7 linked regions of the Homo sapiens genome follow. The protein of the gene in region 1 interacts with the protein of each later gene in a biochemical or structural test. Each region holds a gene or a part of one and is shown in the gene's direction. Other genes may lie near its edges. The genes, in order: DLG4, EVI5, CACYBP, ACOT6, OR8G1, GJC1 and CRB2.

The links.
Region 2: the proteins of DLG4 (region 1) and EVI5 interact in a test that uses a peptide from one of them, tested with the Homo sapiens proteins (one large-scale study listed by IntAct).
Region 3: the proteins of DLG4 (region 1) and CACYBP interact in a test that uses a peptide from one of them, tested with the Homo sapiens proteins (one large-scale study listed by IntAct).
Region 4: the proteins of DLG4 (region 1) and ACOT6 interact in a test that uses a peptide from one of them, tested with the Homo sapiens proteins (one large-scale study listed by IntAct).
Region 5: the proteins of DLG4 (region 1) and OR8G1 interact in a test that uses a peptide from one of them, tested with the Homo sapiens proteins (one large-scale study listed by IntAct).
Region 6: the proteins of DLG4 (region 1) and GJC1 interact in a test that uses a peptide from one of them, tested with the Homo sapiens proteins (one large-scale study listed by IntAct).
Region 7: the proteins of DLG4 (region 1) and CRB2 interact in a test that uses a peptide from one of them, tested with the Homo sapiens proteins (one large-scale study listed by IntAct).

What each region holds. Positions count from the first base shown.
Region 1 is NC_000017.11:7,189,103-7,193,627, reverse strand, and holds part of DLG4 (disks large homolog 4), read left to right. Parts: intron 1-43; coding exon 44-145; intron 146-510; coding exon 511-683; intron 684-1,625; coding exon 1,626-1,735; intron 1,736-2,269; coding exon 2,270-2,361; intron 2,362-2,813; coding exon 2,814-2,920; 3' UTR 2,921-4,525. UniProt on the Homo sapiens protein: Postsynaptic scaffolding protein that plays a critical role in synaptogenesis and synaptic plasticity by providing a platform for the postsynaptic clustering of crucial synaptic proteins.
Region 2 is NC_000001.11:92,778,151-92,782,705, reverse strand, and holds part of EVI5 (ecotropic viral integration site 5 protein homolog), read left to right. Parts: intron 1-4,555. UniProt on the Homo sapiens protein: Functions as a regulator of cell cycle progression by stabilizing the FBXO5 protein and promoting cyclin-A accumulation during interphase. May play a role in cytokinesis.
Region 3 is NC_000001.11:175,005,977-175,010,531, forward strand, and holds part of CACYBP (calcyclin-binding protein), read left to right. Parts: intron 1-768; coding exon 769-865; intron 866-1,121; coding exon 1,122-1,221; intron 1,222-2,632; coding exon 2,633-2,730; intron 2,731-3,946; coding exon 3,947-4,103; 3' UTR 4,104-4,555. UniProt on the Homo sapiens protein: May be involved in calcium-dependent ubiquitination and subsequent proteasomal degradation of target proteins. Probably serves as a molecular bridge in ubiquitin E3 complexes. Participates in the ubiquitin-mediated degradation of beta-catenin (CTNNB1).
Region 4 is NC_000014.9:73,617,622-73,621,112, forward strand, and holds the end of ACOT6 (acyl-coenzyme A thioesterase 6), read left to right. Parts: intron 1-1,612; coding exon 1,613-2,218; 3' UTR 2,219-2,267; downstream 2,268-3,491. UniProt on the Homo sapiens protein: Catalyzes the hydrolysis of acyl-CoAs into free fatty acids and coenzyme A (CoASH), regulating their respective intracellular levels.
Region 5 is NC_000011.10:124,246,999-124,251,553, forward strand, and holds part of OR8G1 (olfactory receptor 8G1), read left to right. Parts: intron 1-802; 5' UTR 803-882; intron 883-2,661; 5' UTR 2,662-2,677; coding exon 2,678-3,613; 3' UTR 3,614-4,555. UniProt on the Homo sapiens protein: Odorant receptor.
Region 6 is NC_000017.11:44,819,866-44,824,420, reverse strand, and holds part of GJC1 (gap junction gamma-1 protein), read left to right. Parts: intron 1-4,555. UniProt on the Homo sapiens protein: One gap junction consists of a cluster of closely packed pairs of transmembrane channels, the connexons, through which materials of low MW diffuse from one cell to a neighboring cell.
Region 7 is NC_000009.12:123,362,297-123,366,851, forward strand, and holds part of CRB2 (protein crumbs homolog 2 precursor), read left to right. Parts: intron 1-568; coding exon 569-892; intron 893-3,620; coding exon 3,621-3,816; intron 3,817-3,930; coding exon 3,931-4,070; intron 4,071-4,555. UniProt on the Homo sapiens protein: Apical polarity protein that plays a central role during the epithelial-to-mesenchymal transition (EMT) at gastrulation, when newly specified mesodermal cells move inside the embryo.

The sequences.
Region 1 (4,525 bases):
TCCCCCAACCCTGCGCTCGGCCTAAGCCAGGCTCTCTCTGCAGTGCACTATGCTCGCCCCATCATCATCCTTGGGCCCACCAAGGACCGCGCCAACGATGATCTTCTCTCCGAGTTCCCCGACAAGTTTGGATCCTGTGTTCCCCGTGAGTGCTGGGGCCTTGGATGGAGGAGAAGGTGGAAGTGGGGGTGGGGCAGGGGAGGCCCATCCCTGGGGCCATAGGCAGAGCCTCCTGGGGGATCGGTGTGTAGGGAGATACAGGGTTTCTCCGAGAAGGGGTGCTTCTCAGCCACCCTCTCATTCCATAGTACCCATGCCCAGGCCAGAGACTTGGAGGCCCTGGAGGGTGCTAGGGGAAGCGGTTCTGGCCCTCTGCAGTCTTGGTCTCCCTGGCAGCTCCCTTTCACCAAAGGACCAGCTGGGCACTATGGGGATTTGATTGAAGTAGGCAGGATTTAAGCTAGAGGGATGGTGGTTAGATCTTTGGGGGGTGGGGTGACTTCCTGGCAGATACGACACGGCCCAAGCGGGAGTATGAGATAGATGGCCGGGATTACCACTTTGTGTCGTCCCGGGAGAAAATGGAGAAGGACATTCAGGCGCACAAGTTCATTGAGGCCGGCCAGTACAACAGCCACCTCTATGGGACCAGCGTCCAGTCCGTGCGAGAGGTGGCAGAGCAGGTAGGACCTGGCGGGCACCCGGTCCTCTTCCTTCTCCCCTCTCCCCACCCCACTGCCTCCCTCCAGCTTTCTCTAACTCTCTCTCTCTCTGTCTCTTTCCCTGCTGGGTCTCCACTCCGCTCCTCCACCTCCTTCTCCTCTTGGGCAACTCTGTCTGACTGCCTGCTCTCTGCCCCTGCTCTCTCTCCCACCTCCCTCACTTCCTGACCCCAAATTCCCCACCACCATCTGGCCTCTTTCTCTCCCCACTCCCTTCTCCTTGCCCCATTTCTCCTCTCTTCCCATGGCCTTGTCTTTGGTGGCTTGGCCTTCCCCACTGGGTCCCTCCCTTTTTCCTGACTCCCCGCTGGCCCTCTCCCCTGCCTCACCCTTTTCTGGGGCCCGGCTCCCCTCTCCCACTCCTCTGCTAACTCCTTTCCTTTCCCCGCTGCTCCTCACCCTGCCCTCCCTCCCTCCCTCCACGGTTCCTTTCTCCATCTGCCTCACTCCCTCCCATCTGTCTCCTTGTTCCTTCCATCTGTCTGTCCTCTGTCCGTCCTCCCCTCCCTCCTCCCTCTATCCTACTTCCTTTCTCCTTTTTCTTGGCTTTCCTTCCCGCCTGTGTCACCTCTGCCTTGCACACCCCGCCCCACTCGCTGCTGCCCCGGCTCTGCCACCATCTCTTGGGTCCCTGCCTGCCTGGTGCTCCTCCCTTCCTCCATTCTGTCCTGTCCCTGCCCTCTCCCGTGCTCTCCATCTTCCCTTTCCTTTCCCTCTGTCTTTTACTCTGTCCATACCCGCTTCCTGCCTGACTCTCTGCCCCCGTGTTTCTTGACATCCATGTCACTCCCCTTCGGCCAACTTCCCATTCCCCACCTCTCCCCGTCCGTGTCCCTCCGGCACTGCTCTCTGTCCTTTCTCGCCACCCGCTGGCCCCCCTCCGCCCACCCTGCCTGCCCCCAGGGGAAGCACTGCATCCTCGATGTCTCGGCCAATGCCGTGCGGCGGCTGCAGGCGGCCCACCTGCACCCCATCGCCATCTTCATCCGCCCCCGCTCCCTGGAGAATGTGCTGTGAGTATGGTCCTGGGGGCCTCCCCTTTGCTCCCCCAACACCTGTGGCCCTGGGCCTCACAAGGCGTCTGCGTTCAACTCTCCCTTCAGAACCCTGGACAGCGGTTTCAGCAGCCCCTGAGGGGGATCCCTGGAACCCAGAGGATGTGGGGGAATCGGGTCTTTCCCCTCCTCTCCTGCCTTGGCTAGACAGGACTACATTTCCCAGCAGCCCCTGGGGCATACCAGCTGGGGCGAGTCAGGGCCTCTAGGGCTGTTGGGAATTGGAGTCCGAATCCCATCTCTGGGGCTGAAGGCTGGAAGGATGAAGCTCCGTAGATGTCCCTGGAGTAGCCACACCTGGCTGGGGCGGTTGCGGGTGGCAGGGGGGTGGGGGGTGGTTCTCATCTGTGGCCCCAGAGGATATTGGGAATTGTATTTTTTTTTTTGCTATGTGCTCCAAATAGAAGAATACTTAACATTCCTGGATAGAGGAGATAAAAGGCAGGGTCAGGTGGGTCCAGTCTCAGGCCTGCTCTCCCTCCCTCTTCACAGAGAGATTAACAAGCGGATCACAGAGGAGCAAGCCCGCAAAGCCTTCGACAGAGCCACCAAGCTGGAGCAGGAGTTCACAGAGTGCTTCTCAGGTGAGGCCACAGCAAGGCTGTTGCCAGCATGTAGGGTGCCCTTGCTCGGATTAGAAAGAGCTCCCCCGCCACCCCCAGTGGATGGCTTAGAAAGAGGTGCCCCTGTGGGCGCGGCATGGTGGCTCACGCCTGTAATCCCAGCACTGGCGGGCACCTGTAATCCCAGCTACTCGGTAGGCCGAGGCAGGAGAATCGCTTGAACCTGGGAGGCAGAGGTTGCAGTGAGCCGAGATCGCACCACTGCACTCCAGCCTGGCGCTAAGAGCAAAACTCAATCTCAAAAAAAAAAAAAAAAAAAAAAAAGAGGTGCCCCTGTGGGCGGGTGCAGCCCCAGGACTTATGGCTTGGAGAGTTGGAAAGAGGTGCCCCTTCCTCTGGGCTGGTGCAACCCCCTTGGCCAGGTGTCCTCTGGCCCTTCCTTGGCCTCACTCCCTGCTCCACCCCACTCCCAGCCATCGTGGAGGGTGACAGCTTTGAGGAGATCTACCACAAGGTGAAGCGTGTCATCGAGGACCTCTCAGGCCCCTACATCTGGGTTCCAGCCCGAGAGAGACTCTGATTCCTGCCCTGGCTTGGCCTGGACTCGCCCTGCCTCCATCACCTGGGCCCTTGGTCTGGACTGAATTGCCCAAGCCCTTGGCTCCCCCCGGCCTCCCTCCCACCCCTTCTTATTTATTTCCTTTCTAACTGGATCCAGCCTGTTGGAGGGGGGACACTCCTCTGCATGTATCCCCGCACCCCAGAACTGGGCTCCTGAACGCCAGGAACCTGGGGTCTGGGGGGGAGCTGGGCTCCTTGTTCCGAGCCCTTGCTCCTTAGGATCCCCGCCCCCACCTGCCCCCAATGCACACACAGACCCACCGGGGGCCACCTGCCCTCCCCCATCCTCTCCCACACACATTCCAGAAGTCAGGGCCCCCTCGAGGAGCACCCGCTGCAGGGATGCAGGGCCACAGGCCTCCGCTCTCTCCTAAGGCAGGGTCTGGGGTCACCCCTGCCCTCATCGTAATTCCCCATGTTCCTTGATTTCTCATTTATTTTTTCCACTTTTTTTCTTCTCAAAGGTGGTTTTTTGGGGGGAGAAGCAGGGGACTCCGCAGCGGGCCCCTGCCTTCCACATGCCCCCACCATTTTTCTTTGCCGGTTTGCATGAGTGGAAGGTCTAAATGTGGCTTTTTTTTTTTTTTTTCCTGGGAATTTTTTTGGGGAAAAGGGAGGGATGGGTCTAGGGAGTGGGAAATGCGGGAGGGAGGGTGGGGGGCAGGGGTCGGGGGTCGGGTGTCCGGGAGCCAGGGAAGACTGGAAATGCTGCCGCCTTCTGCAATTTATTTATTTTTTTCTTTTGAGAGAGTGAAAGGAAGAGACAGATACTTGAAACTTGGTGTGTGGCCTGGTTATTTGGGACCTGGGTGTGGAGGGAGATGGGCGCAGCAGAGTCAGATCCTTCTTCACTCCAAGCCAGAGAGGTTAGTGGCCTGGAAAATGGGCCAGGGAGGTAACTGGCAAATCAAGGAACCCGAGTTGGTGAAGACTGAGCCTGGGAAGGTCTGGAGCTCTGTCCAAAGTCATGACAGGCCAGAAAGGGGAGGCTGGAACTTGTCTGGGGCCCTGCAGACTTAGTCCAGCTCTGATCCCTGCCGGGCTGTCTCAGTCCTGTTGGGAAGCACAACAGTCCTTAAAGGAAAATAGAGAGGAAACTTCGTTCATTCATGTTCATGGAGTTGTGGACAGAGCTAGGATCTGGAAATGATTTTTTTTGTTTTTTTGTTTTTTTTTTTGAGACAGAGTCTTGCTCTGTCGCACAGGCTGGAGTGCAGTGGCTCGATCTCGGCTCACTGTGATCTCTGCCACCCTGGTTCAAGTGATTCTCCTGCCTCAGCCCCCTGAGTAGCTGGGATTACAGATTACTGCCACCATGCCTGGCTAATTTTGTATTTTTAGTAGAGATGGGGTTTCACCATGTTGGTCAGGCTGGTCTTGAACTCCTGACCTTGTTATCCACCCGCCTCAGCCTCCCAAAGTGCTGGGATTACAGGCGTGAGCCACCGCGCCTGGCCTGGAAATGATCTTTACAGAGTTCTGCTGATAAGAACTGCTGTGTGAATATACGCTAGGTTTCTTTATGCGCCCCCCCCACCCTTTTTTTTTTTTTTTTGAGACAGAG
Region 2 (4,555 bases), on another chromosome or scaffold:
GGTGATAAAACTCTAGTATTAGAAATTGTTGAACATTTTCCCAAAGTGGTTCTACCAATTAGCAGGGAATGTTCCGGTTACCCCACATCCTTGCTGGTGCTTGTCAGTTGAAATTTTTTTTGCTAGTCTAGTAGAGGTACAGTAATATATCAGTGTGGTTTCATTTTGCATTTTCCTGGTACTGAGGTTGAGTATCTTTTGTTGACCATTTATATTTCCTCTTGTGAAGTGCCTGTTAAGTCTTTTTGCCCAGTTTTCGTTGATATGCTTATTTTTCTCTCATTTATAATGCTTTATTCTGGATATGAGTCCTTTCTAGGATATATATGTATTGCATTTTTATTTTTTTCAGTCTGTATTTTGCCTTTTCAGTCTTTTAATGGTGTTTTTTTTCATGCCTGGAGATTCTTAATTTGTGTGTGTGTGTGTTTTTTGTTTGTTTGTTTTGTAAGATGGAGTCTCACTCTGTTGCCAGGCTAGAGTGCAGTGGCGCGATCTCGGCTCACTGCACCCTCGCCTCCCGGGTTCAAGCAATTCTCCTGCCTCAGCCTACTGAGTAGCTGGGACTATAGGTGTGTGCCACCATGCCCGGCTAATTTTTGTATTTTTAGTAGAGACAGGGCTTCACCATGTTGGCCAGGGTGGTCTTGATTTCTTGACCTCATGATCCATCCACCTCGGCCTCCTAAAGTGCTGGGATTACAGGTGTGAGCCACCGTGCCTGGCCTTTTTTTTTTTTTTTTTTTTTTTTGAGACAGAATCTCACTCTGTTGCCCAGGTTGGAGTGCAGTGGCACGATCACGGCTCACTGCAATCTTGATCTCCCAAGACTCAGGTATTCCTCCTGCCTTAACCCCCAAGTAGCTGGAACTACAGATGAGCACCACCATGCCCAGCTAATTTTTGTATCTTTAGTGGAAATGGGGTTTTGCCATGTTGCATAGGCTGGTCTCGAACTCCTGGGCTCAAGTCATACACCTACACCAGCCTCAGCCTCCCAAAGTGTTGTGATTACAGGCATGAACCACTGCACCCAGCCTGAGATTCTTAATTTTAATGAAGTATACTTTATCAATCTTGTCCTTTATGGTTACTGCTTTTTGTGTCCTATTTAAGAAATCAATGCCTAACCTGAGAATATGAACATATTTTTCTGTGTTGTCTTATAGCAATTTTATTTTACTTTTTGCAAAAAAAATTTTTTTTTTTTTCAGACAGGGTCTGAAGTGCAGTGGTGCAGTCTCAGAACACTGCAACCTCCGCCTCCTGTGCTCAAGCATTCCTCCCACCTCAGCCTCCTGAGTAGCTGTGACTACGACTACAGGCATATGCCACCATGCCTGGCTAATTTTTGTATGTTTTGTAGAGTCAGGGTTTCAACATATTACCCAGGCTGGTCTCAAACTCTTGGGCTCAAGCAATCTGCCCTCTTCGGCTTCCCAAAGTGCTGGGATTACAGGTGTGAGCCACTGTACCCATCCCCTACTTTTTGCATTTAAGGTATATAATTTAGAGTAAATTCTTGATGAATCGCAGGGGTCAAGATTCACTTTTTAGGCCGGGCGTGGTGGCTCATGCCTGAAATCCCAGCACTTTGGGAGGCCGAGGCGAGCGGATCATGAGGTCAGGAGTTTGAGACCAGCCTAGCCAACATGGCGAAACCCTGTCTCTACTAAAAATACAAAAATTAGCTGGGCGTGGTGGCGGGTGCCTGTAATCCCAGCTACTCAGGAGGCTGAGGCAGGAGAATCGCTTGAACCTAGGAGGCAGAGGTTGCAGTGAGCCGAGATTGTGCCATTGCACTCTAGCCTGGGCGACAGAGTGAGACTCGGTCTCAAAAAAAAAAAAAAAAATTTACTTTTTTTTTTCTTTGAGACAAGGTCTCACTGTATCACCCAGGCTGGAGTGCAGTAACATGATCTCCACCTGCTTTGACCTCCCAAAGTGCTGGGATTTAGGCATGACCCACTGCACCGGGCCAAGATTCACTTTTTTCTATATAGACGTCTGTTTGATCCAGCACCATTTATTGCAAATACCATCCTTGTCCATCTGCACTGTGTGGCACTTTTTTTCATAAATTAGATAACAGTATGGTCAGCTAATTTATGAAATTAGTGTGGGTCTGTTTCTGGATACTTTGTTCTATTTGTATATTTGTCATCCTTGCACTAATATCACTGTATTAATGTAACTTTATAATAAGCTTTGATATGTGGTAATATAAGCTCTCCAACTTTGAGAGGTGGGCAAAGAAAGTGGGCTGTGGGCAGGGGCTGCTTTTCATCAAACACACTTCTGTTTAACCCCTTGGCTTTCAGCCTTGAGCCTTACTTTACTTTTCTTGAGTCTGGAGTCTCACAGGTGTATTAGTCTGTTCTCATGCTGCTATGAAGAATACCCAAGACGGGGTAATTTATAAAGAAAAGAGGTGTAATTGACTTACAGTGCCATATGGCTGGGGAGGCATCAGGAAACTTACAACCATGGTGGAAAGCACCTCTTCACAGGGGAACAGGAGAGCGAATGAATGCCCAGCAAAGGGTGAAGCCCCCTGTAAAACCATCAGATCTCGTGAGAACTCACTCACTATCACAATAACAGGGTGGGGGAAATTGCCCCTTTGATTCATTTATCTCCACCTGGTCCTGCCCTTGACATGTGGGGATTATTAACAATTTAAGGTGAGATTTGGGTGGGGACACAGAGCCAAATCGTATCACCAGGTCAGAGTTTCTAGAAAATAAATTTATGAGATAGGAATGGTGGCAGAGGAGGGAACCTAGACTAGAGTCCAACTGTACCTTACATAAACTTTAAACCATTTACTTTCTCTTTAGCCCCATGCCTCTCCACTGACCCTATACCTGGGAACTCCTAGGCTCCTAGATTCTGAGCCTTTCTGTGATTCTGTGAGTTAGCCAAATCAGCTTGCTTCTTTTTATTTTTTAAATTAAAAAAATTTTTATATCACTTTATCTGGCAGCCTTCTTCTGAGCCAGAATAGGCTCAGAGAGACTCCTCAGCTTGTTTCTTGATTGTATTCCCTTTTGCAGGCCAGTAGGTTCAGCCTCCTCTACTCAGTCACTTATTTCTCCATCTCTTCTTGTTTCATGGGTGCCATATCTGTTCTTATCTCTCTGAGAATGTTAAAAATCGTTTTCTTAAGCCTTTCTTTTTTTTTTTTTGAGACGGAGTCTCAGCCACCCAGGCTAGAGTGCAGTGGCGTGATCTCGGCTCACTGCAGCCACCATCTTCCGGGTACAAGCGATTCCCCGTCTCGGCCCTCCAAGTAGCTGGTATTACAGGCATCTGCCATCATGCCCAGCTAATTTTTGTATTTTTAGTAGAGCCGGGTTTTCACCATGTTGGCCAGGCTGGTCTTGAACTCCTTACCTCAGGTGATCCGTCCACCTTGGCCTCCCAAAGTGCTAGGACTACAGCTGTGAGGCACTGCACCTGGCCTAGACCTTCTTTTCCTTGCATAGTTTCTTCCAAGTTACTTTTTTTCCTATTTGGTATAGTCTTATTAGTAGAGGCCCTCCTCGGAAGACTGGTAATCCTTGGTTGTCTGTTCATGATTAACAGTGGGCTACTGAAAGCTGATGGGAAGTCCTGAACTTGTAAGTAGGACTTAAGGACATGTTGTTTTACCCTATATTCTAGAGTCTAAAGCAGTGATTCTCAGCTTCGGCTGCACATTATAATCACATGGAGAATTAAAAAAAAAAATCCCTGCTGCTAATACGTCAGAATCTCTGAGACTAGGTCCCAGGTAGGGATAGTTAAAAAAATTAGGTGTGGCTACATACAGTAAAATGCACAGAATTTAAGTGTATAGTTTGATTTTTACCATGTAACCGATATAAGATGTAGAGCATGGCAAAAAATTCTAGAAAATTCCTTCATATCCCTTTCTTCTGTTGTCTCACTCCCAGCCTAGAGGTGACCACTATTCTGATTTCTATCTCCGAAGATTAGCACCAGTATTTTTTAAAGCTGCCAAGATAATTCCAGTGTGTAGCCAAGATTGAAATAATTGATCTGGGTGGATTGTTTGAGGCTGTCTCCACTGTATTTATCTTTCCTTTTGTCCCAGTCATATTTTCCAGAGAGTATCTTCCAGTTTTCTGCTTGGAGAGTTGAGGTCTGGTTGTCAGTATCTGGGAACTCAGGAAAAGAGGGTTGGGTAAGGAGCCAAAGAACATTTAGTATATTGGGCTCACACAATCTGTCTCTGTTAGGATGCCTATGTCTTCCACCTTGTATGGTTTACCCTCTTGAGAAGAGAAATCTGTCACCTGCCACATTGAGGGTGGGGCCACTCAGCAGCTTGGAAGAAATCTGGGATTCTAACTGTTCAGCATTCACTTGCTCCTTTCTTTTAGTCCCCCTTCCACTCTTTGTTCTGGCAGTTCCTGAGCCTTTTGAGGAATCTATGGCATAAACCGGTTTGTTCTTAGTTGTCAGCATTGCTGGCTTAGAATTTGGCCATCTTTGGCGGGGTGCAGTGGCTCACCCCTGTAATCCCAGCCCTTTGGGAGGCTGAGGCAGG
Region 3 (4,555 bases), on another chromosome or scaffold:
CATGGAGGATGGGGCATGTTTCTATTCTATAGGACTAAGTGAGCAATAGTCAGGGATATGTATGTATATATTCTTGATAAACAGAAGATGCTTTTTTGTGAAGTTTTTTATTTTCTACAAATGTGATGGTATTTTGTGAAGTATTTATATATATGTCTTTTATGTTGACAGAGTTCTTCTAGGTCAGAGACGTGCTGGTAGTTTGATAATACATACTGAAATGGCATTTAACAGATACCAGTAGGTTTGTCAGATTTGGATGAAGAATTGGAGTCTTTTACATTCTACTTTGCCCTGGAAAGGAATTAAGAGAGCTAGGATTCCATTTGTTTGACTACTTACAGAAGTAGAAATGGTTATGGAATTAGTATTGATACTTAGCCATCCAGCTTAGTGGAGAACTACCAATATTTAGATGTCGGACAAAATTGTTTCCATAAAAGCTGTAAATGAACTAATCTTAAAGAATGTATTTAGTGATCATATTTTTATTCTGAGGGATAAAAAGAGCATAGGTTTTGTATTCAGAAACCTGGATTTGAATCTGAATTCTACCACTTGTTAGATGCCTAGCTTTGGGTAGAGTACTTAACTGCTTTGAGGCTCCATTTCTCAACCTAGAAAATTTCTTATATTTCAAATTTTTTCATGTTTATATGACTGGATTTTCATAATTTTACTTTCCTGACTTATGAGCCATGTGCATTTGCTGTTCTAAAGATAGTTTCAGAGGCTTACTTACGTCCCATCTTTTGTTGTCGTTGCCAGGATGGGATCAGTCAGATAAGTTTGTGAAAATCTACATTACCTTAACTGGAGTTCATCAAGTTCCCACTGAGAATGTGCAGGTGCATTTCACAGAGAGGTGAGTTCTCATTATAATGGGAAAGACAGTGAATTAACAGTCAACATTGCCTTATCTTGAGACTCTCTTCTTTGCAGTTTTTAAAATTCTTAAATTTAGAATTAATTATCCTTTACAACTACTTTGAAGAGGTGAGCGTTAACTGGCCAAATGCACACCCTGAAATAAAGCCAGCAGCTTTTTTCCCACAAGAACTATGGAGTAAGGGTACCTTTCATAGAACTAGAAAGATGATGTATTCACCATTGTGTTGCAGGTCATTTGATCTTTTGGTAAAGAATCTAAATGGGAAGAGTTACTCCATGATTGTGAACAATCTCTTGAAACCCATCTCTGTGGAAGGCAGTTCAAAAAAAGTGAGTGTGCTTTTTTTGATTGTAATATTGTGAAACCTTACCAAATTGAACCTGGCTGATTTAGAACTGAGATGAACTGGAATGAATTTGTCCTCTGTAACAGGGACCACCGCCTGTTTTGTGAATGTTTTATTGGGACATAGCCAGGCTTATTTGTTCATGTGTTGTTTGTGGATGCTTTTGTGCTACAATGGCAGAGTTAAGTGGCTACAGCAGACCATATGGCCCTAAATGAAACCTAAAATATTTACTATGCGGCCCTCGACAGAGAACATTTGCCAACTCCTTTTGTAGAATAGGCTATTGTAAGAATATTCCATTAAAATCAGGGAGGAAGTAAACGTTTGAAGGTAGTTAAGAGTGAGACTTGAGTTTTATGCCAGGTTTACAGCTTATTGTTTGTGACCTTTGGCAGCTTAATCACTCTGTGCCTCAGTTTCTGCATTTATGCGATAGTAATAATTTATTTCACAAAGTTGAAATGATACACTGAAGTGCAATACCATTATGTAAAGTGCTTAAATTAATGCTAGTGTTAGCATTGTGCATAATACTCGTATACATAAAAGGAGGTCTTAAGCACTTAGCCTCCTTGGAGTTAGAAGCAGCTATAAAAATAAGGAAACTGTCTTTTAAAAACTACTCTTTGTAATTTTTACTAAATCAGATAGTCCCTGTTTTCTGCCTAATGTGAATAAATGAAGTTTAATGCGTTAGGTATATAGACATGACATTCTGCCATCTGTTTTTATAATACATAATTACTTAACAGCTTACAGGTGATACTCAAATATAGTTGGATTCGCTGTCTTACTGCACCCTTCTGCATCCGCTAGTCCCATAGGTAGAGTACCAAAAGATCCCTAGTATTGATCATTGTTTAAAAGACCTGTACATTGCCCTTCTTTCTCACTTTCAAATGCCTCACCTTGCCCCATACTGCCTTATACGACTTGGTTTCTTGCCTATCCCCGACCCCTCTTATTATATTACTGTCTTTTTCAGTCACTAAAATCCAGCCACTCCTCCTGCTCCTCAAACACACCAAGATGATCCCATCTTGGAGCCATTCTGCATGCTCTGCCAACTGCCTTCTCCTGACCTTAGGCTTCGGCTCAGATTTGCCTCAGAGAGGCCTTCCTAATGAAGTTCCTGCCCCCACCCCCCATTAACACCCGCTTTGTCTTGATAGCACTTTCCAGGATATCAGGGTATTCAAGTTTTACTTATTTATGGTCTTTTCACACCATGAATGTTCAGATTTTGGCCTATTCATACAAGTATTACTGGCACCCAAAATAAGTCTATACATACTAGGGACTTGATCAATTGAATAGATAATTGTTTTATAAATATTCATGCTTATCTCCATGTCTTCTAAGCTGTATTTGTTTTCCTGCTTTTCTTCCAGGTCAAGACTGATACAGTTCTTATATTGTGTAGAAAGAAAGTGGAAAACACAAGGTGGGATTACCTGACCCAGGTTGAAAAGGAGTGCAAAGAAAAAGAGTGAGTCTACTTCCATTTTTTTAAAGAATTTTAGTGTATTGTTTGAGATCATGGATTTTTAATAGTTTGTCTTTATGGATAATGTATTTCTGCTTTCAACTGTCAAACTACCTGAAGAGGGCACGTCCAGCAAGTTGCTTTTTAAGGTCTTTGTAGTTAAGGGTTGGCTCTTTAGTGTGGTTCTTAACCCTAGGCGCAGTTGTGCTTCTATACAAATAACTGTGCCCATTCCCAGATACTCTGTTTCGGTAGTTTGAGAGGGGCTTAGGTACCCCTGTATGTTTTAAATTTCTCAGATGCTTCTGATGCGTAGTTTTCATTGTCACTGGTTTATAGTGAAAAAGATAAAATATTTTTATCCTTCTTAATAATGACCTTTTAAAAATGTGTATTCAATGATACTTGCGTTCTAGGTCAGTTCATCTTCTAAAGGTACTGACTAAATTAATTCAAGACCCAGGCCCAGATCTGTGTATCTCAGGCTTAAGAGGAGAGTTTTTCTAATTAAAAAATACATGAGCTTCAGGGTACATCCATGTGTAATGTTTATGATTTTCCCTCAAGTGTTTTTTTTCAAATTATGAGGAAACATGCTTTTAAAAAATGAAAACAAGTTAGAAAATCAAATTCTTATTTTACCTGTCAAAAATCACAGGAGGCCAGGTGGGGTGGCTCACGCCTGTAATCCTAGCACTTTGGGAGGCTGAGGCGGGCGGATCACCTGAGGTCAGGAGTTTGAGACCAGCCTGGCCAACATGGTGAAACTCTGTCTCTACTAAAAATACAAAAATTAGCCGGGCATGGTGGCATGTGCCTGTAATCCCAGCTACTCGGGAGGCTGAGGCAGACAGAATTGTTTGAACCTGGGAGGCGGAGGTTGCAGTGAACCGAGATGCGCCACTGCACTCCAGCCTGGGCAACAGAGCAGGACTGTCTCAAAAAAAAAAAAAAAAAAAAAATCATGGGAAATCCCTGTGCCTAAAAATAGCCCCTAACTATTTTGATGACCTCTTTCGTGCACCAAGTGTGTGCATGCTTGATACGTGTGTGTTGTTTTCATTAAGATGAATTTGTGCGTGCCGTTTTGATTGTAAATATCTTTGGGTACTCTGTCTTCCTTCTTATCCCTCTACTTCCTGCCAGTGTTAACAACCTGAATGATAGTATCTTCCGGTGCTTTCGTTTCCCCATTGTTGTATATGTTTTCTTTTTAAAGGAAGCCCTCCTATGACACTGAAACAGATCCTAGTGAGGGATTGATGAATGTTCTAAAGAAAATTTATGAAGATGGAGACGATGATATGAAGCGAACCATTAATAAAGCCTGGGTGGAATCAAGAGAGAAGCAAGCCAAAGGAGACACGGAATTTTGAGACTTTAAAGTCGTTTTGGGAACTGTGATGTGATGTGGAAATACTGATGTTTCCAGTAAGGGAATATTGGTGAGCTGCATATATAAATTTGACAGATAGCTATTTACATAGCCTTCTAAGTAAAGGCAATGAATTCTCCATTTCCTACTGGAGGATTTATTTAAATAAAATATGCTTATTAAACACTCCTGCAAAGATGGTTTTATTAGTACCCTGGTCATTTTGTTCAAGGAAGGGTTATATTGCATTCTCACGTGAAATATAAAAAGCAAGTCTTGCCCAATAAAAACGCTACATTGTGTGTATTTTTTGTTCAGCTAAGAATTGGAAAAGTATTTGCTTGCCTTTTAAGTTACTGACATCAGCTTCCACCAGTGTAAAAATTGAGTAAAACCTGAAGTTTTGCATAAAATGCAAATCGGTGCCTGTGCTTGAAGGTTGCTGTAGAGCAT
Region 4 (3,491 bases), on another chromosome or scaffold:
AATAAGGCAGTTACTCTCTCTGGAGTTCAATTTTCCTCCTTAATAAGATTAATGTAAATGTATATAGAGAAAATGACTATAAAGAGATATTTTTTGAGACAACTGGAGACATTTGAATGAGAATGGTGTATTTGATTATATGAAGTAATCATTAATTTTGTTGGGTATGATAATGGTATTATGGTTTTGTAAAGAAAGTCCTTATCTGATAACAGAAATAATTAATTAATTAAAACATTTTGGCCAGGTGCGGTGGCTCACGTCTGTAATCCCAGTACTTTGGGAGGCCAAGGCGGGCAGATCACCTGAGGTCAGGAGTTTGAGACCAGCCTGGCCAACATGGTGAAACCCCATCTACTAAAGATACAAAAATTAGCTGGGCATGGTGGTGCACACCTGTAATCCCAGCTACTCGGGAGGCTGAGGCAGGAGAATTGCTCGAACTCAGGAGGCAGAGGTTGCAGTGAGTCGAGATTACACCATTGCACTCTAGACTGGGCAACAAGAATGAAACCCCATCTCAAAAAAAAACCCAACAACAACAACGACAACAAATTTTGGTATAATTAAAAATGGAATTATATATACTCTTTGTTATCATCCAGGTTTAAAGAGATCCAGACATTCTAATGTTAAGATATAAGATGTTCTGCAGGGTTCTCTCCCCCACAACCCCTAGTGCTCTTGGGATCCGGCACCCCAGAATTCTCTGCCAAACAGCTCTGATCCTGCTTCCAGGCCCTAAGCCTCTTTTCTGGGTTCGTCGGTGTATATATACCTAGGCCTTAAACATGCAAGCTGGGGTGTCCACACATATGTGTGAGAGGCCCCTTAAGGTCCACGAAGGAGCCAGTGATGGAAGAGAAGGAGTGTGGTGCAGGGCCCACGGGCTGACCTCTCCCCTATGTCACTTTCCAGTACAGAACTCCAGTGGATTCCAAGATTTTAAATTTGAGCCTGAACTTATGAATTGTTATGGTGGTATATTTATCAAGGCAGGAGAAAATAATATACTGTATTTAACAGTTTGTTCATTTGATTTATAATTTTGAAATATTTAGGTATAGGGTGTCTGGGCCTCTGTGTATACTCCTGACCCAGTCCTCATAAATATTAGGGGATGACCCATTACTAGGAAATCAGTTGATTTGCTTATTAGAAGACATATTTGAACTTTGCAGATTGTTGGATACGGAAGGAAAGCAAATGATAGTTAAGAAAGCTACTGGCGGGGCACGGTGGCTCATGCCTATAATCCCAGCACTTTGGGAGGCCAAGGCAGGCGGATCACTTGAGGTCAGAAGTTTGAGACCAGCTGGCCAACATGGTGAAACCCTGTCTCTACTAAAAATACAAAAATTAGCCGGGCGTGGTGGTGGGCGCCTGTAATCCCAGCTACTCGGGAGGCTGAGGCACGAGAATTGCTTGAACCCGGGAGGTGGAGGTTACAGTGAGCCAAGATTGCACCACTGCACTCCAGCCTGGGTGACAGAGCGAGACTCCATCTCAAAAAAGAAAAAAAAGAGAAAGCTACTTGGAGAATGTAAAATCACTGTCTGTGTCCTCCATTTATGAATTCTAAGCTTGTTTTCCTTCTCTTTTTCCTCAACAGGTGAAAGGTCCTAGTATTGCGCTTCTTGGATTTTCCAAAGGAGGTGACCTGTGTCTCTCAATGGCTTCTTTCTTGAAGGGCATCACAGCCACTGTACTTATCAATGCCTGTGTAGCCAACACAGTAGCTCCTCTACATTACAAGGATATGATTATTCCTAAACTTGTCGATGATCTAGGAAAAGTAAAAATCACTAAGTCAGGATTTCTCACTTTTATGGACACTTGGAGCAATCCACTGGAGGAACACAATCACCAAAGTCTTGTTCCATTGGAAAAGGCGCAGGTGCCCTTCTTGTTTATTGTTGGCATGGATGATCAAAGCTGGAAGAGTGAATTCTATGCTCAGATAGCCTCTGAAAGGCTACAAGCTCATGGGAAAGAAAGACCCCAGATAATCTGTTACCCAGAAACTGGTCACTGTATTGACCCACCTTATTTTCCTCCTTCTAGAGCTTCTGTGCACGCTGTTTTGGGTGAGGCAATATTCTATGGAGGTGAGCCAAAGGCTCACTCAAAGGCACAGGTAGATGCCTGGCAGCAAATTCAAACTTTCTTCCATAAACATCTCAATGGTAAAAAATCTGTCAAGCACAGCAAAATATAACATTGTAGCCACAGACCAGATACCATTAATAAAAATCCTATTCATACAACTTGTGTTGGGTTTTCTTTCTTTCTTTTCTCTTTTTTTTTTTTTTTCCTGTATCACTCTGTCACATAGGCTGGAGTGCAGTGGCATAATCTTGGCTCACTGTAACCTCTGCCTCCCAGGTCCAAGCTGTTCTCCGACCTCAGACTCCCGAGTATCTGGGATTACAGGTGCACACCACGGCACCCAGCTAATTTTTGTATTTTTAGTAGAGACAAGGTTTCGCCATGTTGGCCAGGCTGGTCTTGAACTCCTGCCTCAGGTGATATGCCTACCTCACTCAGCCTCCCAAAGTGCTGGGAATACAGGTGTGAGCAACCACACCCAGCCTGTGTTGGGTTTCCCAGAGCCCGTAGCAACCTTTTTAGTGACAAAGCAACCAGCTCAGCTTTTTTGTCAGGTCCTCCCTGATTCTCAACCTTTGCAACCTGCCTTCCGTCACTGCTAGGTCCACGTAGGCTTAACCTTGATCTTATATGTAGGACCGGTCTTCACCTTAAGCAAGAGAAATGTAAGAAGTGCTTTCCCAACTCAGTTGCTGGCCCAGCTTTGGCCTCGTGTTCCCTTTCTGAGGACTGACCTTTGGTATTGCTCTGGAGTCTCATATCCCCTTTGGCCCTAACTGACCACGTCTGAGTCTTGGGAAACTGCCCACTCGATTGCCTTAAGGAATGGACTCTGCCTCATTCTTTTTTTTTTTGAGACGGAGTCTCGCTTTTGTTGCCCAGGCTGAAGTGCAATGGTACGAGCTCAGCTCACTGCAACCTCCGCCTCCCAGGTTCAAGCGATTCTCCTGCCCCAGCCTTCCGAGTATCTGGGACTACAGGCTCGTGCCACCATGCCCAGCTAATTTGTGTATTTTTAGTAGAGACAGGGTTTCACCATGTTGGCCAGGCTAGTCTCAAACTCCTGATGTCAGGTGATCCACCCACCTCAGCCTCCCAAAGTGCTGGGATTACAGGCCTGAGCCACCACGCCTGGCTCTACCTCATTCTTGCCCATACACATTGCTGAACATTTACTCAAGACTTCTCCCTGGGCCGGGCACGGTGGCTCACGCCTGTAGTCCCAGCACTTGGGAGGCTAAGGCGTGTGGATCACCTGAGGTCAGGAGTTTGAGACCAGCCTGGCCAACATGATGAAATGATGAAACCTAGTGTCTACTAAAAATACAAAAAATTAGCCAGGCAAGGTGGCGGGCACCTGTAATCCCAGCTACTTGGGAGGC
Region 5 (4,555 bases), on another chromosome or scaffold:
AACCTTGCGAGATCCAGCTAAAGTGGGGTTCAGATGGAAATTTATAACTTATATGTACACATTAGAAAAGAATAAAAGTTGAATTGTTGATTCAAGCTTCCACTTCAAGAGGTTAGGGAAAAAAATAGGAAATCATACTAAAGAAATGTGTAAAGAATATAATAAAGTTTTTAGAAACAACTAAAGTAGAAATAAATATATCACTCATAAAATTAACATACCCAAAAGTTAATTTACTTTATTTGAGTAATACAATTGGAAAATTTCTAGAATGGTTGATCGAGACAAAAATGGAACCATAAATTACTGATTTTAGGAATCAGAAAAAAGAAATCGCTGCATAGTCTACAATTATGTTTAGATGTTAAAGAAACAATTACCAAAAAAGAAGAAGAATACAATATATTTGATCATTTGCAAAGTGGGCAAGCATTTTCAAATTTAAATTTAGGAAAGTTGAGAAGAAAGATAAGATCTGAATAGTAATATCTATTAAATAAATTCAATCCATTACTAAAAATTCTCACAGAGAGAAAACCGTAAGTCTAGATTGCTATACTGGTGAATACTTCCAAACATTTAAGGTATTTTGGGGCAATCTATTCCAAAAAATATGTTTTTGAGATTTGTGTTATTGCATGTATTTGTGATATGTTCCTTTTAAAATATAGAGTAATATTTTATGTGTGTGTGCATATAAGACAGAGAGAGGAAGAGAGAGAGGGAGAGAGAATTGTAGTATAGGTGTATACTACATCTCATTTATGTATTCATCTGTTGATAATGTTTTGGTTTTTTCCAGTTTGGGGCTCTTATGAATAAGGCTGTCATGAACATTTTTGTATAAATCTTCATGTAGACAAACGTTTACATTTTTCTTGGGTAAGTACTGAGGAGCAGAATTATTATATTGCACAGTGTCTGTTTAAATTTATACTAAATTGCCAACATCTTTTCCAAAGTGGTTGGACAATTTTACACCTCCCCCAAATTTTATAAGTCCAGTTACTTCACACCAACATTTGGTATTGTTGGAGTTGTTTCATTTAACCCATTCCAATACAGGTGTGCAGAGCTGTATCACTATGGTTTTAACTTTCATTTCTTTGATGACTGACATTGAGCATATTTTCATATACTTAAGGACTATTCATACATATTTTTGTAAGGAATTTGTTCGGATATTTTCCTGTTTTTAAAATTTTCTTGCCTTCATATTAATTGTAAATATTATTTCTATATTTTGAATAAAAGCCCTTTTTCAGATATATGTATTTCCATAGAATTGCCTTCTCATTTTCTTAATACTATCTTTTGAAGAACAGCTTTTAATTTTGATGACATACAAATTAAGTATTTGTATGGTTTTTTGTTTGTTTGCTTTGGGTTTTGTTTATGTGTGTCTGTGTGTGTGTGTGTATCCTTTCTAAGAAAGCTTAAATTTTAAAATCTCAAAGAATTTCTCTAGCATTTTCTTCCAGATATTTTATAGTTTAGCCTTTCTGTTTATATCTGTATTTTAGTTTTTTTATAGAAGTAAGATATACATTTTTAGGTTTTCCATATATAATATTCTTTGTAATTTAACTCTAAGCCATTTGGAATTTTACTTTGGCACATGCAATGAGTAATTTGCCTGATCATAGTTTAACAGAATAAATAACTATATTTTAAATTCCATATATTCTAAATGTATGCCTGTTTTTTGTACTTCTTCCTAATTCACAAAAGTTAAAAGAAGAGAAAAAAAATGGAGGTATTTTTATCTGTTTCTGTAATTTGAATGAGTAAAATGGCTTATTTTCCAATTGACAGGATATGAATAGGTAACAAATACAATGATGATCTTGCTTACTTTCTGATTAATAAGTCTGCCAATTTTATTAATAGGTAGGTAATATTTTTATTTATCTTTCACAGATTTGGAGTCAAGACACAAACGGGTTATTTAACTTATCCACGGGTATCATTAGTAAATGATAGAGTCAGAAAGCAAACATAGGCACTTTGAGTTTAAGGCCTGTCCATTTAACCACTACTAACACAGCTTCCCTCAAATAATGGCAGAAGTGCTTGGTCCAGAGACCATAAACCAGATAACTGTGGGCCAGTCCAGCTCGTGTTAAATTTATACAATTATTGTTATAGAGATTGTTTCATAGTAATAATATTTTAAAATATGAAAATTTTATGTATAAATCGAGATTTCTTGATAATTACATTAAAAATGGAAAAATCTGACAGTAATATCTCTGTTCACCCCTCCCAGAAATTAGTTTCAGGTAATTAAAGTTTACCATCCTTAGGCAAGGTTTGTTCTCTCCAAGTTGTCATGAGTTCAACTCATTTATATTGGCTTATATTAATATTTAAGTTAGTGAGTCTAAACTTAGAAATATTGGCTTAAAATCACTGAAATATTTAAAAGAAGAAAGGGATACTTAGAAAGTGTTCAATGATAAAAATGGCTAAAATATTTTACATGAAACACATTTATTATATTTGAAAATAAGATTAAATAAATATTATTTGAGGTAAACTTTACTTACTCAAAGGGGATACCTAAAGCATGAATATCTGGGAACCTTTTCTCAATGAAGAATAATAAAGTCCCTCCCACAACCATGGGGTTTTTTTGTTTTGTTTTTTCTCTTCCTGCAGAAACTGACTGGAGGAGATGTCAGGAGAAAATAATTCCTCAGTGACTGAGTTCATTCTGGCTGGGCTCTCAGAACAGCCAGAGCTCCAGCTGCCCCTCTTCCTCCTGTTCTTAGGAATCTATGTGGTCACAGTGGTGGGCAACCTGGGCATGACCACACTGATTTGGCTCAGTTCTCACCTGCACACCCCTATGTACTATTTCCTCAGCAGTCTGTCCTTCATTGACTTCTGCCATTCCACTGTCATTACCCCTAAGATGCTGGTGAACTTTGTGACAGAGAAGAACATCATCTCCTACCCTGAATGCATGACTCAGCTCTACTTCTTCCTCGTTTTTGCTATTGCAGAGTGTCACATGTTGGCTGCAATGGCGTATGACCGTTACATGGCCATCTGTAGCCCCTTGCTGTACAGTGTCATCATATCCAATAAGGCTTGCTTTTCTCTGATTTTAGGGGTGTATATAATAGGCCTGGTTTGTGCATCAGTTCATACAGGCTGTATGTTTAGGGTTCAATTCTGCAAATTTGATTTGATTAACCATTATTTCTGTGATCTTCTTCCCCTCCTAAAGCTCTCTTGCTCTAGTATCTATGTCAACAAACTACTTATTCTATGTGTTGGTGCATTTAACATCCTTGTCCCCAGCCTGACCATCCTTTGCTCTTACATCTTTATTATTGCCAGCATCCTCCACATTCGCTCCACTGAGGGCAGGTCCAAAGCCTTCAGCACTTGTAGCTCCCACATGTTGGCGGTTGTAATCTTTTTTGGATCTGCAGCATTCATGTACTTGCAGCCATCTTCAATCAGCTCCATGGACCAGGGGAAAGTATCCTCTGTGTTTTATACTATTATTGTGCCCATGTTGAACCCTCTGATTTATAGCCTGAGGAATAAAGATGTCCATGTTTCCCTGAAGAAAATGCTACAGAGAAGAACATTATTGTAAACAGTAATAATAAGAAGATGATATATTAATCCTAAGTAGTGGACTGTTACATTGTATGAATGGATGTCTTTCACTTTAATGCATCTGTCAATAATTTTTACCATTTGGTGAGATTATATTACCATTATTTTTTCATTTCATGACCCTTTGATGTCATTTCCCATGTGGGGTTTTAACTCATATGTATCAATGAGACACAAATTAATATAAATACTAAAATCGACATGAGTACATAGACTCATTAATGCCAGCCCCATGTTCTTACCTCTTTTCTTTTACACAATTGATAAAATTCAGCTCAGTTCTCAACCATAATGAAAATACCATCTTCCAAAAGTGATACCAATCTCCCTTATTCTGTCTTTTCAATAACAACATAAATTATTGCAATATGATAGCTGTAATTTTAGCCTGCAGCAATCTCTTTTCTGCCTTATTCATCTATTTACCTCATTTGTCTGCTGTATTTCTTCTTTAGCAACATAATCAAAATTTCAGAATATAAGTTACATATCCGTGTATGTGTTATAATTGTGCAATCCAATATATCATCTGCTTTGCATTTTCCTATTCTAGTTTGTACTTGCCTTCAACCTACACTGGACTTCAGTCTTCATGAAGATTCCCCCGTACATGTGGTTTATTGCCACGTCTCCAGCGTCTATCATAGTTCTTGCCACCTTAGGTCCTTGAAAGCTTTTTTATTATTTCCTCATTTAAGCTAAGTATAGGAAAGCCATATGTATGTCATACTTACTTTATCTATTTATCTCTCGAAGAGCTACATATGTTTTTAAATCTAATCTAATTTAATTTATATTTCAAGTTGATTAAAATTTACTTTAGAAGGTTCTTCAAGAATCTATAATATAACTGGTAACATTCTGACCTATTCTATGCTAAGATGTATGTGTATTTGTTCTGTGAAAAATCCCAATGCAG
Region 6 (4,555 bases), about 38 Mb from region 1:
AGGATGAGGCAGGAGGATTTTTTGAGCCCAGAAGTTGAAGGCTACAGTGAGTTGTGATCACACCATGCACTCCACCCTGGTCAACAGAGTGGGACAGTCTCTATTTGAAAAAAGAGGCCGGGTGCGGTGGCTCACACCTGTAATCCCAGCACTTTGGTAGGCCGAGGCAGGCAGGTCACAAGGTCAGGAGTTCGAGACCATCCTGGCCAACATGGTGAAACCCTATCTCTACTAAAATACAAAAAATTAGCCGGGCATGGTGGCGCGCGCCTGTAATCCCAACTACTCTGGAGGCTGAGGCAGGGGAATCGCTTGAACCCGGGAGGTGGAGGTTGCAGTGAGCTGAGATTGTGCCGCTGCACTCCAGCCTGGCAACAGAGCAAGACTCCATCTCAAAAAACGAAAAGAGGGCCAGGCACAGTGACTCACGCCTTGTAATCCCATCACTTTGGGAGGCCGAGGTGGGCAGGTCATGAGATCAGGAGATCGAGACCATCCTGGCTAACACCGTGAAACCCCGTCTCTACTAAAAATACAAAAAATTAGCCAGGTGTGGTGGCACACGCCAGTAGTCCCAGCTACTTAGGAGGCTGCGGCAGGAGAATCGCTTGAACCTGGGAGGCAGAGGTTGCAGTGAGCTAAGATTGTGCCACTGCACTCCAGGCTAGGCGACAGAACAAGACTCCATCTCAAAAAAAAAAAAAGGAAAGGAAAGAAAGGCCAGGCATGGTGCCTCACACCAGTAATCACAGCTCTTCTGGAGGTCATGGCAGGAGGATTGCTTGAGTCCAGGAGTTCAAGACCAACCTGGGCAATATGATGAGACCCTGTCTCTACAAAAATAAGAAATTTTAAAAAAAAGGAGGAAAGAGGCTAGGTACGGTGGCTCACGCCTGTAATCTCAGCACTTTGGGAGGCCGAGGCGGGGGGATCATGAGGTCAAGAGATCAAGACCATCCTGGCCAACATGGTGAAACCCCGTCTCTACTAAAAATACAAAAATTAGCTGGGCCTGGTGGCACACACCTGTAGTCCCAGCTACTTGCGAGACTGAGACAGGAGAATCACTTGAACCCGGGAGGCGGAGTTTGCAGTGAGCTGAGATCACACCACTGCACTGAAGCCTGGTGACAGAGCAACACTCCGTCTTAAAAAAAAAAAAAAAAAAAAAACAGGAAAGAAATGCATAGGGTTTCAGAGTAAGTTTTGATGTTTTTCCTCTATATAAATCGGATAAACTTCACACACCCCTATTCTTATCCTCTAATCTCTAAACTATATTCAACTCCCAATAGTTATAGAGATTATTTTCATTCACATGTTTGTAGTATTTATCAGTTTTGGCTTAATTTATTATTACTTAACTAATGAGTTATAACATTCCTTTTGGGAACGTTCAAATTAGAGCTGGACTCTATTTTAGGAATTCCCCTTGAGTCATTCTTGGACTTGGAATTCCTAATTGCCCATCCAGAGTAGATGTTTATTTGGATTCAAAATTTTCCTTCCTGAAATTATCCATTCTGTGGCTTCGGTTACCATATATATTTTGAATACTGCCACATTTTTATCTGTAGCCAGACCTCTTTTTTTATCCTGGCTGCCTGTTCAACATCTCCACAGAGATACTCAGAGGAGGTAATTTGAATTGTGTTGTCCAAAGTGAGCTCTTCATCTTGGCCCCACACCTAGACTTTCTTCAGTGTACTCTATTTTATTAAGTGGCTCTATCACACAATTTACTGAGGCTGGACTCTTTTTTTTTTTTTTTTTTTTTGAGATGGAGTTTCGCTCTTGTTGCTCAGGCGGGAGTGCAATGGCATGATCTTGGTTCACTGCAACCTCTGCCTCCCGGTTTCAGGCGATTCTCCTGCCTCAGCCTCCCGAGTAGCTGAGATTACAGGCGCCTGCCACCACGCCCAGCTAATTTTTTATATTTTTAGTAGAGATAGGGTTTCACCATGTTGGCCAGGTTGGTCTCGAACTCCTGACCTCAGGTGATCCACCCGCCTCGGCCTCCCAAAGTGCTGGGATTATAGGCATGAGCCAACACACCCTAATTTTAGAATATTTTAGATTGTTTTTATTCCGTCAAAAAGAAACCTGATACCCGTTAGCAGTTACTCCCTCCTTATTCCCCCCATAATGGTTGTACAATATTCCATTATGGAGGTTATACCATAAATTATATATGTTTCTTTTTTTTTTTTTTTTTTTTTTTTTTGAGACGGAGTCTCGATCTGTCTCCCAGGCTGGAGTGCAGTGGCACGATCTTGGCTCACTGCAAGCTCCGCCTCCCAGGTTCACACCATTCTCCTGCCTCAGCCTCCCAAGTAGCTGGGACTACAGGCGCCCGCCACCATGCCCGGCTAATTTTTTGTATTTTTAGCAGAGACAGGATTTCACAGTGTTAGCCAGGATGGTCTTGATCTCCTGACCTTGTGATCCACCTGCCTCGGCCTCCCAAAGTGCTAGGATTACAGGTGTTAGCCACCGCACCCAACCTAATTATATGTGTTTCTTATAATAAATGCCCTGTATTTGTTTAGGGTAAATTACTAAATGTGGAATTATTGATCAAAGGATATAAGCACTTTAAAGTTCTTGATAACTGTTGCCAAGATGCCTTCCAGAAAAGTTGTACCAGATGACACCATTGGTGTATGATGGTATGGGTGTTGGTGTTTTTTTGTTGTTTTTTTTTTTTTTTTTTTTTTTTTTTTGAGACGGAGTTTCCCTCTTGTTGCCCAGGCTGGAGTGCAATGGCGCGATCTTGGCTCACTGCAGCCTCCACCTCCCAAGTTCAAGTGATTCTCCTGCATCAGCCTCCCAAGTAGCTGAGATTACAGGCGTGTGCCACCACGCCCGCTAATTTTGTATTTTTAGTAGAGACAGGATTTCGCCAATATTGGTCAGGCTGGTCTCGAACTCCTGACCTCAGGTGATCCGCCTGCCTCAGCCTCCCAAAGTGCTGGGATTACAGGCATGAGCCACCGCACCCAGCCGATGGTATGGGTTGGGTTTTTTTAAAGAAATTTTGTATCATAAACGTAGTCATATTGGAAAATCATACATTTATTTTTGTCTTAGACATGTTCGTTTTTCTAGACTGAGCATTGTTCAGAACAGTTGGTTTGACCTAATCTTAGGCTGTTTTGGACAAATGTTCCAATATTGTCCTGTTTGCATGAAGACAGTTCCACTTAGGATATGTTGTGAATGAATATATTATCCCTATCCCAGGTTCCTCATACTTCTCCAGCTGGTTCCTGAAGGTTCTTACATTCAAATAGAATGGCTTTTTGCCAGCGAAAATTGGCACTTCAACCCACAATGGTGCTTTTTGTTTCCTCATTGGTTGATACAGCCAAGATCTCAAACTACTCACTCTCCATGAGATTTTATAATTTGATTCGCCACAAATTATATTTTAGGTTTTTCAAATATTCATAGCCAAGAGCTCTTTTGAAAACAAGTTGTTTTCATGTTTGTAGCACATAGATTACTATGTGCTACTTAGCTGCTGTAATGCTTTTGCTTAGAAATTGTCACGAGCTAGTTATTAAACATCTATTATCACTCATGTGGAATTAACTTCCACTTAAAACGTTCCAGTTAAACAACACTTCATTGTAAACCCTTTAATTGATTCCTGGTCTCTGCACATAAAGCAGTCGCGTTCAGGGGTATGAGTCACTAGCACGATTCTTAGTGGATTGCTCAGCTCATGAGCTGGGATGCCTAGATTGTTAATACCTACTTTGGAATTACAGTGAGTCAATATTGAAATTTTTAAATTTAGTCCAACCGCAAATTTTCTGAAATGATCGTTTGGGAAGTGCCTTTTTAAAATTTTGACATCTTGTTATATTGTTTAATTTTACTGCTATTACTTTACTTTTCTCCTATCCCTAGACTTTTGAGTTCCACATAATTTGTCAGTTTGGTGAATTTTACTCTGAGATAGTTTTCATCAAATGTTAAATGGAAGAGATTTTAGAAATCATCTAACTTGATATTCTTCATTTATTTCAGAAATTAGGATATGGAAAGAACTTATTCCTGAAGTGCATGGATTATATTCTGGGATTAGAATCTCTTGCCTTCTAGTCCATTGCTTGCTTAGTTTCACAAAATTCAAGGTTAAGAATCACTTTTCGCCCAGGAGCCGTGGCTCACGCCTGTAATCCCAGCACTTTGGGAGGCTGAGGCAGACGGATAACCTGAGGTCAGGAGTTTGAGACCAGCCTGGCCAACAAAGTGAAACCCTGTTTCTACTAAAAATGTAAAAAAATTAGCCACTGTGGAAAACAAGATAATGTTCCTCAACCAATTAAAAATTACCATATGATAGAGCAATTCCACTTCTGGATATTAAAACAAAAGAACTGAATGATTAGCCAGGTGTGGTGGCACACGCCTGTAATCCTGGCTACTTGGGAGGCTGAGGCAGGAGAATCACTTGAACCTGGGAGGCAGAGGTTGCATTGAGCCGAGATCATGCCACTGCACTACAGCCTGGGTGACGAGGCAAGATTCTGCCTCAAAAAAAAGA
Region 7 (4,555 bases), on another chromosome or scaffold:
AGAAGAGGTGGAGGGGGCAGTGGGAGGAGCCTCACCCTCTGGGGCCTCCTTGGATGGATGGGGCCTGCAGGAGGGAGACCCCTCCCCAGGTGGAGCTGAAATAATCCAGATAGACCTTGAAGCCTGTCCCAGCGAACACTAACTTGCTGTGTGAAGTGGACAGGGCTGGGCAGGCTCAGCAAGCCTTCACTTTCTTTCCTGGGCCTCCTTTTGCTGTCTGGTGCAATGGGCATGACGGATACTGCCTCAAAGGGGGACTGCAGGGACAAGACAGTGGAGGGAAGCTCACGGGGCTCAGGGAACCTCTGCTCACTAATCCTGCCCAGAAGCCAGACATCCTTGGTGCTGTTTCTCTGCTATATAGGCTCTCCTAAAACCGTTCCCAGTTCTGGGTGCAGATGTGTGCAGCTTACTGGGACCTGGCTTGCAGACCCCTGGCCCTCTGTCCATACTGTGCATGCAGAGACCCACGTTGCTTTTGGGGTCTGGGGTGGGCCTGAGAGGGTGGGGAGGAGATTGTCCTTGTAACCTCTGCCCACCCTGCCCAGCCAGTTTCTTCTTTCTACAGGGACGGTGCCTTCAGAGCCCCCCAGTGCCTGTGCCTCAGACCCGTGCGCTCCAGGGACCGAGTGCCAGGCTACCGAGAGTGGTGGCTATACCTGTGGGCCCATGGAGCCCCGGGGCTGTGCCACCCAGCCATGCCACCACGGCGCTCTGTGTGTGCCCCAGGGTCCAGATCCCACCGGCTTCCGCTGCTACTGCGTGCCGGGTTTCCAGGGCCCACGCTGCGAGCTGGACATCGATGAGTGTGCATCCCGGCCGTGCCACCATGGGGCCACCTGCCGCAACCTGGCCGATCGCTACGAGTGCCATTGCCCCCTTGGCTATGCAGGTAACAGCCTGGGCCGCCCTGGGAGGAGGTCTGTAATGCAGATCGCATCAGCTGCTCAGAGTGTAAGCATCATGGCTTCAGCTTTGCCTTTCGTGTAGGGACGCCCCCAGGCATCCGGGCAGCTCTAGGGTATATCCACTTGGTCTGACTACAGAACTGATGCCTGGCAGCTCTGGGTGAGAGTATGTATGTGCGGGTGCTGGCGTGGTGTGTGGCGCATCTCAGGCACTCGGTAAATGTGATTTCAGTCCAGCCTAGAGTTCAGTTTGGCTGCGGGGGTGGAATACCCCTCATTCATCTCTGGCAGTGTGAACCTGCCTGGCGTGACTTTAGTGAGGATGCCCAGATAGTCTTTCTAGCACTTCAGGCCTGTGCCAAGCTGTCATGTAGACACTGTCTACACGACAGTCACCATCAGCTCATTTGAACACTCCTGATGTGGTCTGGAGTGCAATGTGGACCCCTGGCCTCTGGGTCTCCCCCAGAGTTCTAGCATAGACATACAAGGTCTCGTTCAAACTGTAGTGTTGACATACCCCAGGGATCGCTGCTGTCTGGAGTGGGATAATATATACGTAAGTGCTCAGAAAAGTGACTGGCACTAAGGGTACCTTCTCCAGAGTGTGGCCCGTCCCAGGCCCACCCATGGTCTGAGCCGAGAACATCCTGGAGCGGCTTCCCAGAGAGGCCTGAAGTCGGGAAGGAGGGCGCAGCTGGGGACAGAAGGGGCGCAGTCTGGGAGCGAAGCTGAGTCCAGGGCAGAGTCTGAGTCTGCAGTGTAGATGCTCTGGATCCTACTTCAATCCTGAATTCAGACAACTGTACTCTGAGGGCAGAGGGCAGTTTGAAGTCACTTCAGAGCAAGAGGTACAGATTGGGGGGCTGGGTTCCAGGGCAGGGGGCCTACAGCGAAGAGATGGCAGCTGATGAAGAGAGATTTGGGAAGCTGGTTCCATGCATCTTTCTCATCGTTCCAGTGTCTCAGCGTCTGGGTGTATTAGTGTACATGCCAGTGCAGGTCACATTCGTCCATGTGTCTCCTAGTTCCAAGTTCTGTTTTGCATCTGTAAAGATCTGCCAGTACCTGGGGGTGTCTGCAGTCTGAGTGCATGTGTGGGCAGTGGGTTGTTCGGGCAGTGGGTTGTGTGGGCAGTGGGTTGTGCGGGCAGTGGGTTGTGCGGGCAGTGGGTTGTGCATCCGGATGTGTAGCACTCACACACTTCGGGTGACTCTTCCTGGGTAAGCTGTGGATGTGAGTGGGGGCAGCATCTGCCGTGACTCATTCTCTCCTCTTTCCATTCCAAGCCGGGTGGGGGAGTTTGGGATTTCCAGACAAGGCCTGGCTCCCCCTGGCACAGAGGGTGGGAGTGGGGATGGGGAGGGAGGAGGGAAGGGTCATGGGAAGGTGGGGCCATGTTTTGTGCTCAATGAACTGAGAAGGGGGAGGGTTCCAGCTGGAGTCAGCTGGGCCTCTGGCCCCCGCTTGACCAAACCCACTTAGGGGGCAGGGCCTGCTGGAGTCTACAGTGACACGTGAGTCCAGGATGATCTCAGGCAGCGTATCTGAAACCCTGGGACTCCCCATCTCCCTTCCTCTTCACCATCACCCTGGGAGAGCCACTCAGCTGTCGTGATTCGCCCAGGACTGCGAGGGTTCTGGGGACTTGGTACTTTCAGTTCTAAAACCAGGACAGTGCAGGGACACTGGGAGGAGTGATTACCCTACTCAAGCATCTCCTGCCTCTCTGGGATCTGAAAGCCACCAGAGTGGACCTTCTAAAAAGTAGGTAGGGCCAGGTGTGGTGGCTCACGCCTGTAATCCCAGCACTTCGGGAGGCTGAGGTGGGTGGATCACTTGAGGCCAGGAGTTGGAGACCAACCTGGCCAACATGGTGAAACGCCTTTTCTACAAAAAAATACAAAAATTAGCCGGGTGAGGTGGCATGCACCTGTAATCCCAGCTACTCTGCAATCTGAGGCACAAGAATCACTTGAACCCAGTGGGCAGAGATTGCAGTGGGCTAAGATTGCAGCACTGCACTCCAGCCTGGGCGACAGAGTGAGACTCTGTCTCAAAAAAATAAAAAACAAAAACAAACCCAAAACAACTAACTAAAATGTAGGTGGGACCAAGTCACTTACCTGTCTGAAACTTTCAGGATGGACCCAGAGGTTACCTGGTCCCCAAGGCACTGACACCTCCCACCCGACTCACCTCCGCCACCCTCTCCCTTGCTTCCAACCCTCCAATAACCCCGCCTAGGGCATCATGGCCCTGCCCCTAGTGGAACTTGCCTCTTGCTGCAGTCTCTTTGGAATCCAACTGCTGCCCACAGTCCCCTATCTGAATCCTTCAAAAGCCTCTTCTTCTAGGAAGCCTTCCCTGAACAGAGCAGACCCCGGCTATTGCTTTCCCAAGACCCAACCCCTTTCCTTGTTGAACTTGGCAACATCACCTAGCTCATTTAGGTAATTACTGGCTGAATCACCCCCCACCATGTCCTGGCCTAGACTGCTGTGAGCCCCATGAAGGCAGGGCTGTCTGTCTCGTTTCTCTCCCTGCGGTTGCTGGCATGACCCGTCCCCCACCCCCCAACCACCACCACCACCATCCGGCTCTGAATGAATGAATCCACGAGTCTCTAACTCTGGAGCAGGCCTGGCGCGACCTCTTCCGCCCTGCTCTGGGTGTCCATCCTGCACCCTGTGTGTCCCCTGCCCTGTCCAGGCGTGACCTGCGAGATGGAGGTGGACGAGTGCGCCTCAGCGCCCTGCCTGCACGGGGGCTCGTGCCTGGACGGCGTGGGCTCCTTCCGCTGTGTGTGCGCGCCAGGCTACGGGGGCACCCGTTGCCAGCTGGACCTCGACGAGTGCCAGAGCCAGCCGTGCGCACATGGGGGCACGTGCCACGACCTGGTCAACGGGTGAGCGAGCGGCGGGGCAGGCGGCAGGGGCGCCGGGTGCCCGAGGGCGGGGAGGCCAGGCGCGGGGCAGAAGGGGCAGGCGCGCGCTCAGCTCCGCCGGTGCGCCCTCCCCAGGTTCCGGTGCGACTGCGCGGGCACCGGCTACGAGGGCACGCACTGCGAGCGGGAGGTGCTGGAGTGCGCATCGGCGCCCTGCGAGCACAACGCGTCCTGCCTCGAGGGCCTCGGGAGCTTCCGCTGCCTCTGTTGGCCAGGTGTGTGCGTGCAGGTGCGCGGCCTGGCGGGGGGAGGGGTAGGTGTGCGCCTGTGCGGCCTGGGGCGGTGGGGCAGGTGTGTGGCTGCACGCGAGTGCCCGCTGGGTCCTCGGGACCAGAGTGTGTGTGTGATTGCAACCTGTCGGAGCCTCAGTTTCCTGATCTACAAAATAGGGCTGATCGTAGCGCCTGCTCCTGGGGTTGCTGCGGGGAGCTCGAAGGTGCGACGCCTGGGAAGCCCTTGGGGAGGGCCTGACAGCTGCAAAGGGCTCAGTAATTAATGCTAGTAATAGTAGTAAGACTAGGCCGGGCGCGGTGGCTCAAGCCTGTAATCCCAGCACTTTGGGAGGCTGAGGCGGGCGGATCACGAGGTCAGGAGTTCAAGACCAGCCTGGCCAACATTGTGAAACCCCATCTCTACTAAAAATACAAAAATTAGCCAAGCATGGTGGCATGTACCTGTAGTCCTAGCTACTCAGGAAGCT